3 linked regions of the Homo sapiens genome follow. The protein of the gene in region 1 purifies or fractionates together with the protein of each later gene. This does not show direct contact. Each region holds a gene or a part of one and is shown on either strand. Other genes may lie near its edges. The genes, in order: TSNARE1, SNAP29 and APOD.

Region 1 (3,649 bases):
TATGTTTTAATTTTCTAAATGTGGAAACTTTCAAACACATCAAAGTAGACTCAGACGCGTCACAGCCCCTGGTGTACCTTGGCTTCCCCTCACTGCTCGTGGCCAGTGTGGCGGTACATGTGCCCCCAAACTGCTTCCCTGCTGTGTCATTCCGGAGTAAATCCCAGATAGCAGATCATCTCATCTGGTAATATTTCAGCGTGTCTCTAAAAGAGAAGGACTCCTTTTATGTGTGACCAGATTTCCACTGTGACAGCACGTTTGGCTGCCATACCCGACCTGCAGTTGAAGTGGCCGACGGCCTCTAGGAGTGTCTGTTTCAGAGATGCCGTTTAACGTGGAGCCTCCCGAGATCCCGTGTTACAGCTGACCTATGCTCCTCCTTCGAGTGTGTCTCTGTCTCTGGCTTCCCTCCATCTCTTTATTTCCCTCCAAGTTTATTTGTTGAAGAAACCAGGGTTTTCCTGTGTGGTGTAATTGATTTTTGTGTACTGGTTTGTGTCCAGCCATGTTGCTAAACCCTTTTTATTGTAATTATTTGTCTGTGGAATCTGTTGAGCTTTCCCTGTAGATGGTGGTGTTTGTGCATAATGACAGTGTTTTCGCTCCTTTTCCAGTGCTTTCACCTATTATGTGTTTCTTTTCCTGGCTGGAACCTCTACTGCAGTGTTGAATGGAGATGGTGGTTCTATTCTTGGTGAGTTTGTGGAAGAACAGGATTATGTATTCCTTGAATGTTTCTGGGTTTTTGCTGTAAAACTATGTGGGTCTAGTGTTTTCCTTTGTGGAAAGATTTTCTGACTACCAGTTAATTCCTCTAGTTGTCAAACGTTATTCAGGCTTTCTGTTTCTTCTTGGGTCAGTTTTGTTAAGTTGCATTTTTCTGGAAATTCGACTGTTTTATCTAAATGTTCAACTTACTGAAATGAAATTGTACACAATAGCCTTTCGCTGTCAGTTGTGACACTGGGGCACCCTCATGTAATGGTTAAGATGCAGATGCAGAAGCCGGCCTGCCCTGGTCCCAGCCCTGCCCGCCCTGCCTGCCCTGGTCCCAGCCCTGCCTGCCGAGGTCCCAGCCCTGCCCACCCTGCCTGCCCTGATCCCAGCCCTGCCCGCCCTGCCTGCCCTGGTCCCAGCCTTGCCTGCCCTGCCTGCCCTGCCTGCCCTGCCTGCCCTGCCTGCCCTGGTCCCAGCCCTGCCTGCCCTGGTCCCAGCCCTGCCCGCCCTGCCTGCCCTGGTCCCAGCCTTGCCCGCCCTGCCTGCCCTGGTCCCAGCCTTGCCTGCCCTGCCTGCCCTGGTCCCAGCCCTGCTAGTCTTTGTCCCAGCGTGCCAGCCCTGCCTGCTTGGTCCCTGCCCTGTCTGCCTTGCCCTGTCTACCCACCCTGCCTGCCTTGGTCTCAGCCCTGCCCACCCTGCTGCTCATGAGCTTTGTGAACTCAGGGTTGGGAAGGGGAGGTGAGAAGAGACCTCCGGCCTGGTGGTCATGCAGATGGATGTGTCGACACCCGTGAAGCTCGGGCAGGGCCGCTGAGGGCCAGTGGTGGCTGCTGCTGCTTTCACAGCCACAGCATCTCAACCACGTCCCCTTTCTCATTCCTGATATTCTGTATTTGTACCTTCTCTGTCTTCTTTTATAGTCAGTATCGACAGAGACCTGGCAGTTCCACAGGTCTCTGCAGAGATATGGCCCCTGGCTTCCCCCTTCTGTGCGTGCGAGTTTTAAATTGTGATTGATTTCTGCTCATAGTTTCATCATTTCCCTCCTTTCTTTAAGTTGATGCTATTTTATTTTTCTGACTCCCAGATTGAATATTTACCACATTCACCATGAATATGGTAAATATTCATTTCTAATAAAAGCATTGGAAATTAGAAATTTCCCTAGAAACTGCTTTAGTTGAATATCACACATTTTGAAATGTATAGTATTTTAAATTTTTTTTCAGTTCTAAATATCTTTAACTTTCCATTATGATTTCTTTGTTTAGGAATTACTTGGAAGTTTACTTCATCATTTTCAGATGTACTTTTTTCCAGTTGTCTTTTTAAAGTGATTTCAAACCCGAACACACATCTGAAAGAAAAGCACCAGTGTTGTCCCGGTTTGTTGAAAATCGTCGCGCTGGGGCTGCTTCTGGGGCATGGGGGCGAGCCTGGCTCAGTGCCTCCTTTGCTCCCCTCAGCTCTTGGCCTTCTGTGTGGGCGGGGCCTTCGAGGACCCTCAGAGCTGGGCAAGGCCTTCCAGGCAGGCTGGTGGGGCCTGGACAAATTCCCCATGGGTGTAGGGTCAGCTGCATGTGCCCAGTCCCTGCTGTGTGCCAAAGTCCTGCCACCCTAACTGTGCAGCACCTTAGGGCCGTCGTGTCACTATAACGTTCTCTGGACAGAGGCAGCAAAAAGCCAGCTAGTGAGTCGTCAACTCATAAATAACTCAGATACACAGAAGAAAGCTCCCCAGAGCTCCATGCACACGGGCCAGCTCTGTGGACAGCTAGGACATGTAGCTGTCTCCTCAGCGCACCAGCAGCGGTCAGCCTCACGATAACCTGGCAGGAAAAGAAAATGTCGACACGCCCTTGGCAGCCTGGGGCGGGAGCGGGGGCCAGGGGAGGGTGGGCATGGGGTGCCGGGAGCAGCCAGCTTTGGGGCAGCCTGGGGCGGGAGCGGGGGCCAGGGGAGGGTGGGCATGGGGTGCCGGGAGCAGCCAGCTTCGGGGCAGCCTGGGGCGGGAGCGGGGGCCAGGGGAGGGTGGGCATGGGGTGCCGGGAGCAGCCAGCTTGGGGCGGCCGGGAGTGTTCCTTCTCTTAGCCCAGCCGTGCTTCCTCTTGGACTCTGTCTTAGGAGATAGACACACGGGCAGAGGTGTTCACCACATGTGATTTGTGCGAGTGCTGACTCAGAAATACTGTAAGCATCTGGCTTTAGGGAGACGATGTGTTACAGCTGGGATAGAATTTGACGCAGGCATTAAAATCACATCGTCGAAGGCTCTCTAGTGACCCGCGCACGTTCTGTGATTTGTGGCGAATGTGGTGCGTGGAAGAAGCAAAGCCATACGTGCAGCATTTGCTTGTGGGAGACAGCCGCCCACCTCCAGGGTTAATGTTTATCTCTGGATGTTGTGATCTTTATTTTTTTATTTATAACTGTCTGCATTTACATTTTTTCTGTAATTTGTGGGTATTATTCTATTCAAAAGCAAACAGCAAATGTCCCAGGCCTGTCCCTGCCATGTTCTAGGTTCACGTGGCTCAGGTGGGCAGAGCATACTGGCCCCTCGAGGGGCGTGGGGAGCAGCGTGGAATAACGTTGGTGCAGTGGGCAGGACCTGGACTTGGGTGAGTGGATGCAGTGTGGTGAGGTGATGACATGTCCTTCTGGACTTGGGTGAACGGATGCAGTGTGGCGAGGTGATGGCGTGTCCTTCTGGACTTGGGTGAGCGGATGCAGTGTGGCGAGGTGATGGCGTGTCCTTCTGGACTTGGGTGAGCGGATGCAGTGTGGCGAGGTGATGGCGTGTCCTTCTGGACTTGGGTGAGCGGATGCAGTGTGGCGAGGTGATGGCGTGTCCTTCTGGACTTGGGTGAGCGGATGCAGTGTGGCGAGGTGATGGCGTGTCCTTGAGTGACAGCAGGGCCTGTGGTCT
Region 2 (3,649 bases), on another chromosome or scaffold:
AATACAAAAAATTAGCCAGGGGTGATGGTGGGCACCTGTAGTCCCAGCTGCTTGGGAGGCTGAGGCAGGAGAATGGCATGAACCCGGGAGGTGGAGGTTGCAGTGAGCCAAGATCAAGCCACTGCAGTCCAGCCTGGGCGACAGAGACTCCATCTCAAAAAAAAAAAATGCAATAAATTGTGAGTAAAATTTTTGTGATCCTGTCAAAACCTTTAATCCATAAATGCAGGAATACTGTCACTTAAAAACTTTGCCTTTTTTTTTTTTTTTTTTTTAAGACAATGTCTCGCTCTGTCGCCCAGGCTGGAGTGCAGTGGTGCAGTCTCTGCTCACTGTATCCTCCACCTCCCAGGATCCAGCAACCCTCCCACCTCTGCCTCCCAAGTAGCTGGGACTACATGCATGGGCCACCATGCACTGCTAATTTTCGTATTTTTTGTAGAAACAAGGTCTCACTTTGTCTCCCAGGCTGATCTCAACCACCTGGGCTCAACTGATCTTCCCGCCTCAGCCTCCCAAAGTGCTAGGATTGCAGGCATGAGCCACTGTGCCTGGCCCACTTAAAAGCTTTTTTTTTTTTTTTTTGAGATGGAATCTCGCTCTGTCACCCAGGCTGGAGTGCAGTGGCGTGATCTCGGCTCACTGCAAGCTCCGTCTCCCACGTTCACGCCATTCTCCTGCCTCAGCTTCCCAAGCAGCTGGGACTACAGGCACCCGCCACCACGCCCGGCTAAATTTTTTTTGTATTTTTAGTAGAGATGGGGTTTCACCATGTTAGCCAGGATGGTCTCGATCTCCTGACCTAGTGATCTGCCCGCCTCGGCCTCAAAAGCTTTTAAAATAAGTTTCTCCTATCAAACTTCTGTTCAGTCATGCATTTCCTGTGTACATCATTATCACACAAACCCTTCGGCCTTCTCTGAAGTTTTGTCTCTTGGGAAGCCCTGTTTGTCCTTGCTGACAGCTTTCCAAGCTGCTTGTTCTCATTTCCACTTACAGCTCATGCGTTCCTGTCACATATGCACCCTTAATTTGAAATTCTCTAACTTATTTAAGACTTGGTTTCTGACCAGGAACCACCCTCTCTTAAACCTCTACTGTCTTATCACTTTTCTCAGTCTCCCTAGAAATTGGCTTTCTTGGCTGAGCGTGGTGGCTCACGCCTATAATCCCAGCACTTTGGAGGTTGAGGTGGGCGGATCACAAAGTCAGGTGTTCAAGACCAGCCTAGCCAACATGATGAAACCCTGTCTCTACTAAAAATACAAAAATCAGGCCTGGCACGGTGGCTCACGCCTGTAATCCCAGCACTTTGGGAGGCCAAGGAGGGTGGATCACCTGAGGTCAGGAGTTCGAGACCAGCCTCACCAACATGGAGAAACCCTGTCTCTACTAAAAATACAAAATGAGCCAAGCAAGGTGGCACACACCTGTAATCTCAGCTACTTGGGAGGCTGAGGCAGGAGAATCGCTTGAACCAGGGAGGCAGAGGTTGCAGTAAGCCAAGATCGCACCATTGTACCCCAGCCTGGGCAACAAGAGCAGAACTCCCTCTAAAAAAAAAAATTAGCCGGGCGTAGTGGCGCTCACCTATAATCCCAGCTACTCAGGAGGCTGAAGCAGGAGAATCTCTTGAACCAGGGAGGTGGAGGTTGCAGTGAGCCGAGGTCATGCCCCTGCACTCCAGCCTGGGAGACAGAGCTAGACTCCGTCTCAAAAAAAGAAAAAGAAAAAAATTGGCTTTCTTTGTGGGGGAGCCATTTTTCACAAAGAAACCATTGTTTTCCTCATTTATGTATTACCAGTATATATGTGATGGCACATAGAAAGAATAAAGCCAGCGTTGAGATGTGCAGGCTGAAAGGTGGCCAGGCAGACTCAGAAGCCAAGTGTCTCTTCCTACTCCCAGCATGGCAATGCACTGCCCACAGTGGTGCTTAGAGGAGCCAGTTCTGTGTTCTAGACTTTCAGTCACAGCTTCCGTGGGGTGAAATCCTGGAGTGTTAAATCCTTCCATTCACCAGGCTCTGCTGCATTCTACCCATAGCTGGAGCCCTGGGCCTGCAAAACCCTTAGCTTGCGGGAGTCTGGACTTGCTCTTGCAAGTTGGGAGTCATTAAAGACTTTAACTGAAGAGGTGCTTGCCAGTATTGCTTTAGAAAGATGCGCAGCACCCATGGGGAGTAAGGATTGGAAGGGAGGGAATTGAATTGAGAGGCATTGCCATAATCCTTGTTAAAGGTAAAGAAAAGCAAGGCAGGCCGGGCACGGTGGCTCAAGCCTGTAATCCCAGCACTTTGGGAGGCCGAGGCGGGCAGATCATGAGGTCAGGAGATCGAGACCATCCTGGCTAACACAGTGAAACCCTGTCTCTAAAATACAAAATACAAAATAAAATACAAAAACCCTGTACTAAAAATACAAAAAATTAGCCGGGCGTGGTGGCGGGCGCCTGTAGTCCCAGCTACTTGGGAGGCTGAGGCAGGAGAATGGCGTGAACCCAGGAGGCGGAGCTTGCAGTGCGTGGAGATCACGCCACTGCACTCCAGCCTGGGTGACAGAGCGAGACTATGTCTCAAAAAAAAAAGGCAAGGCAGAAGGAGAGGCTGGGTTTCTGGGCTACTTAGGGGGTGGGAGATCAAGAGGGCGTTTGTTTTGCCTGGATTACTGGGAGTAGCGCTGTGCAGGGGGAGGGCAAAAATTGCGAGTAACCCTGATTCCCAGATTGGCTGGCGAAGTGGTCAGGCTGCTGTTGAGATAGAGGAGAGCAGGCTGTTGGGGAGGCACAGCTCCCAGCTGGAGGCACCTGCCATACCTTAGGGGGCTCAGCAGGATGTCGGGGATCAGCAGGGCATCAGGCATAGTCTAAATGACTTTGAGTTGCAAGAGCTATCCCTGTCTACAGCCAGAGTCAGCAAACTAGGCCACGGAGCAAAATCAAAGATATTTTATAGGGACTTACGTGATGAGAAAAAAACATACTTTCACAACTTTTTAGTGACAAAATTTAAAATATAAAAACAGTGGCCGGGTGCAGTGGCTCACGCCTGTAATCCCAGCACTTTGGGAGGCCAAGGTGGGCGGATCACGAGGTCAGGAGATCGAGACCATTCCGGCTAACACGGTGAAACCCCGTCTCCACTAAAAATACAAAAAATTAGCCGGGCGTGGTAGTGGGCGCCTGTAGTCCCAGCTACTCAGGAGGCTGAGACAGGAGAATGGTGTAAACCTGGTCAGCAGAGGTTGCAGTGAGCCGAGATCGTGCCACTGCACTCCAGCCTGGGCAACAGAGTGAGACTCCATCTCAAAAAAAAAAAAAAAAAGTAATAGGCTGGACACAGTGGCTCATGCCTGCATGGCTGTAATCCTGGCACTTTTGGAGGCTGAGGCAGGGGGATCACTTGAGTAGGCACCTGTAATCCCAGCTACTCAGGAGGCTGAGGCAGAAGAATAGCTTGAACCCGGGAGATGGAGGTTGCAGTAAATCGAGATCACGCCACTGCACTCCAGCCTGGGCAACAGAGCAAGACTCTGTCTCAAAAAGAAAAAACAATTTAAGAATTGGCCAAGCATGGTGGCTTATGCCTGTAATCCCAGAACTTTGGGAGGCTAAGGCGGGCGGATCACCTGAGGTCAGGAGTTCGTGACC
Region 3 (3,649 bases), on another chromosome or scaffold:
ATAAAGCAGTTATAATTATTCCTGTAATGACACATCCTTCGAAATGCTCAGATCTGAGAACATTTTGCTTGCATTGCATCAGTCATCATCATTACAGGGAGAAATGCAGAGAGCTGGAAATAGCTCGTGTGCAAGCTACAGGCAAGGAGTCACAAGGAAAGGAGCAAATTGACAGCGAGTCAGTGAAGGAAACAGGGGAGCTTCCAATGCCCAGAACCTGCACACAGTCCTGCAGCCTCTGTCTCCCTGCCTTGCTGCCCCGCTTCAAAGCCAGCTTCTGCTGCCAAAGGACTCTTGGGGTTGAAATGCTTGTTGCACAGTTACACATCAGCTGACAGTCCTTCTCTGATTTAATGAACTTCATCTATGAAAAATACCCTCAACAGGCCGGGTGCGGTGGCTCAGGCCTGTAATCCCAGCACTTTGGGAGGCCAAGGCGGGTGGATCCCCTGAGGTCAGGAGTTTGAGACCAGCATGGCCAACATGGTGAAACCCTGTCTCTACTAAAAATACCAAAATTAGCCGGGAGTTGTGGTGGACACCTGTAATCCCAGCTACTCAGGAGTCTGAGGCAGGAGAATCACTTGAACCCGGGAGACAGAGGTTGCAGTGAGCCGAGATTGTGCCACTGCACTCCAGCCTGGGTGACAGAGTGAGACTCCATCTCAAAACAAAACAAAACAAAACAAAAACCCTCAACAGAATGTCAAAAAAAAAAAAAGAAGAAAGAAAGAAGAAAAGAAAAGAAAGAAGAAACCTGGGAAATACCATCATCTTTCTGCTTTTGATAATAACAATAACTAGCATTTATTGAGCATTTACTCTGTATCAGACACTCCTCTAAGTACTCTCTGTATATTATCTCATTTAATTCTCACAAAAATTCATGAGCTAGGAATGATAATTATTCCCATTTACTAGACAAAGAAGCTAAGGCATAAATTGGACACAGTTATACTTAGTATGGGGCAGAGTCACAATTTGAACCTGGCTGGGGTGACCCTGGAGCCCCCAGCAGGCCGCTCCCTGTTAAGGTTTCCAAGCGCACTCTTGGGCTGGTAGAACAGCCAGCAAGACGAGGGCAGGGGGAGGGATGGTGTCAGAGAGGCATCTCCCTGAAGAATCTCAGAGGACACTAAGTGTTGGGCAACATTTGGTTTGGTTTCGTGTCTTTCGTGGTTCACTTGGAGGCTTTAATCCCCCACTTTACATAGCCCTCTCCACGCTGTTTCTGTTCATTTGACAAGTATCTACTGAGCCGACACTTTGAGGTCCGTGGGTGATTCTGAGGAGAACTAGACACAGTGCCCATCCTGGGAGATGCATAATTAGGTGGGACAGGGGTGAAAATCAATCCAACAAACCAGAATACCAGGCAGAGAGCGCCCTCGTGGAGGTGCAGAGGCTCTGAGGAAGGCCTCACAGCAACAAGGACAGGCAGGTGTTCCCCTGCAGGATGAGGGTTCACATGGGCTGGGGAGAGAAGAGGAGGGACCGCCCACAGAGGGGACCATGGGCACAGCACTCTTACTTCATGATTGTGTGGCCTTAGAAGGCTCAGAATGACAACCCCAGCTGCTTTGCGTTCCCGCAGCTCCAGGTCCCTTCTCCAGCCACCCAGCCCCAAGATGGTGATGCTGCTGCTGCTGCTTTCCGCACTGGCTGGCCTCTTCGGTGCGGCAGAGGGACAAGCATTTCATCTTGGGAAGTGCCCCAATCCTCCGGTGCAGGAGAATTTTGACGTGAATAAGGTAAAAGGCGAACCTCCCGTTTGTTTTGCTGCCTCCGCTGTGAATAAGCGTTCTACAAGGTTCAATGTAATTATGCTGCTTTAATTTCCACTGCACACCTTGGGACAAGTATTTATCTTATTTGGGGTTTCCCCAAAGCAGACATCTGCTGAGATAAAGACTGCAGGCAGAGAGGTTTGGGATGATCCCGGGACGCACGAGAGCAGGTGGGAAGGTGAGTCGGAGACAGCACAGAAGCAATAAAGGGTGCGTTCCTGAGCTGTCGCCCTGGGCCGTCAGGGTCAGTCACACTGGGCACCCTCTGAGGACACGTGGAGCATGCCCCTCCGATTGTCCCACAGCTGCTGCCAGCAGGTCATGGGAGCATCCGTGGCTCTAGCTGAGCCCCCTGGCAGAGGAGAGACACAGGGTCTCAGGTGGGAGGCTGGCAGTGTCTGGGAATTGCCTACCGTGGCTGCGGTGAACTCAGAGGTGGGCTGAGGGGAACAGGACCAGGGAACCATAGTAGCTGCTACAGAGCTATTATCCTTGTTCTACAGATGCAGCATCGGAATCTCCCTCCCCAGCTCACGCAGCTGGTAAATGCAAGTAGGATTCAAAACCAGGCTTCTCAGCAGTGCAGGGCACCCAAAGGTCACTCAAACAGGGCTCAGGAAAGCCCAAAATTCTCCAGGGGGCTTTCTTGGTATCTGCACCAAAATGTCATCAATACAACGAGCTCCTCCATAGATGGTCTTTCTTCCTGGGGTTTAGCGGGAGGGGAAGGAAGAGGGCGGCAGAAAGAGGCAGCTATTGGAGGACAGGACTCACAGGCTCCCACTGTTGCTACTCAAGCCTGGAATCTCACCCTTAAGACTTCCTCTCCTTAGGAGAAGGTTTGGATCTCTTTTAAGAATGGCAACAGTAACATCGAAGTTGTTATCATACACTCGCACCTCAAGGTGAATGAGTGTTGGGACCTCTGAGGGGACGCTGGGTGGGAGAAGGAGCACCATCCATGGGATCAGGAGATACAGGTGTGGTAGGAAGAGGCCATAGAGTACACTAACGTCTACACTGACTTGCTCCACTTACAGGCTGATCCCTTTATTCAGGTAACTCTGATAGACCACAGAGAGGCTTTAAAGAAAACATCCAAGGAATCTGAGTTATACTTTCGCTTTTGGATACAAATCCCAAAGCACTTTGGAAATGATAACTGATCTGTATTTATAGAAGTCCTTTGAGAATTAAAGCAGGATTTAAAAAATAGCAGCTTTATTGAGATATAATTTGTATAGCACGTAATTCACTTGTTTAAAGTAGCTTTTCACTTTCCATTGTTGTTAGTATCATCACAGAGTTACGCAACCATCACCACCACCATCGATTTAGAACATTTCACTGTTCCGAAAAGGAACCTCATACCCATTCACGGAGTCTCCATCTCCCCTCCAACCCTTCCAGCCCCAGGCAACCACTAATCTACTTTCTGTCTCCGAATTTGCCTATTCTGCATATTTGATAAAAATGAAATCATACTATATGTGGTCTTTTGTGACTGGTTTACTGAACGTTTTCAAGGTTCATCCACGTTGTAGCATGTATCAATACTATATCCCCTTTTATTGCCAAATAATATTCTTGTAGGAAATCGTTATAGGAAATCAATTGACTGTATATGTGAGAGTTTATTTTTGCACTCTCAGTTCTATTGATCTATATGTCTATACTTATGCCAGTACCACACAGTGTTGATTACTATAGCTTTGTAGTAATCAAAGCCTTGAGGTAAGCTTTGAAATAAGAACACATGTGTCCTCCAACTTTGTTCTTCTGGTTATTCCGTGTCCCTTACATTTTTATATGAATTTTAGGATCAGCGTGTCAATTTCTGCAAATAATCCAATTGGAATTTG

What was found.
Region 2: the proteins of TSNARE1 (region 1) and SNAP29 purify together in Homo sapiens (affinity purification with mass spectrometry; 2 studies listed by BioGRID and IntAct, with this or other methods). This does not show direct contact.
Region 3: the proteins of TSNARE1 (region 1) and APOD purify together in Homo sapiens (affinity purification with mass spectrometry; 2 studies listed by BioGRID and IntAct, with this or other methods). This does not show direct contact.

What each region holds. Positions count from the first base shown.
Region 1 is NC_000008.11:142,347,610-142,351,258, reverse strand, and holds part of TSNARE1 (t-SNARE domain-containing protein 1), read left to right. Parts: intron 1-3,649.
Region 2 is NC_000022.11:20,876,001-20,879,649, forward strand, and holds part of SNAP29 (synaptosomal-associated protein 29), read left to right. Parts: intron 1-3,649. UniProt on the Homo sapiens protein: SNAREs, soluble N-ethylmaleimide-sensitive factor-attachment protein receptors, are essential proteins for fusion of cellular membranes.
Region 3 is NC_000003.12:195,577,441-195,581,089, reverse strand, and holds part of APOD (apolipoprotein D precursor), read left to right. Parts: intron 1-1,594; 5' UTR 1,595-1,628; coding exon 1,629-1,751; intron 1,752-3,649. UniProt on the Homo sapiens protein: APOD occurs in the macromolecular complex with lecithin-cholesterol acyltransferase. It is probably involved in the transport and binding of bilin. Appears to be able to transport a variety of ligands in a number of different contexts.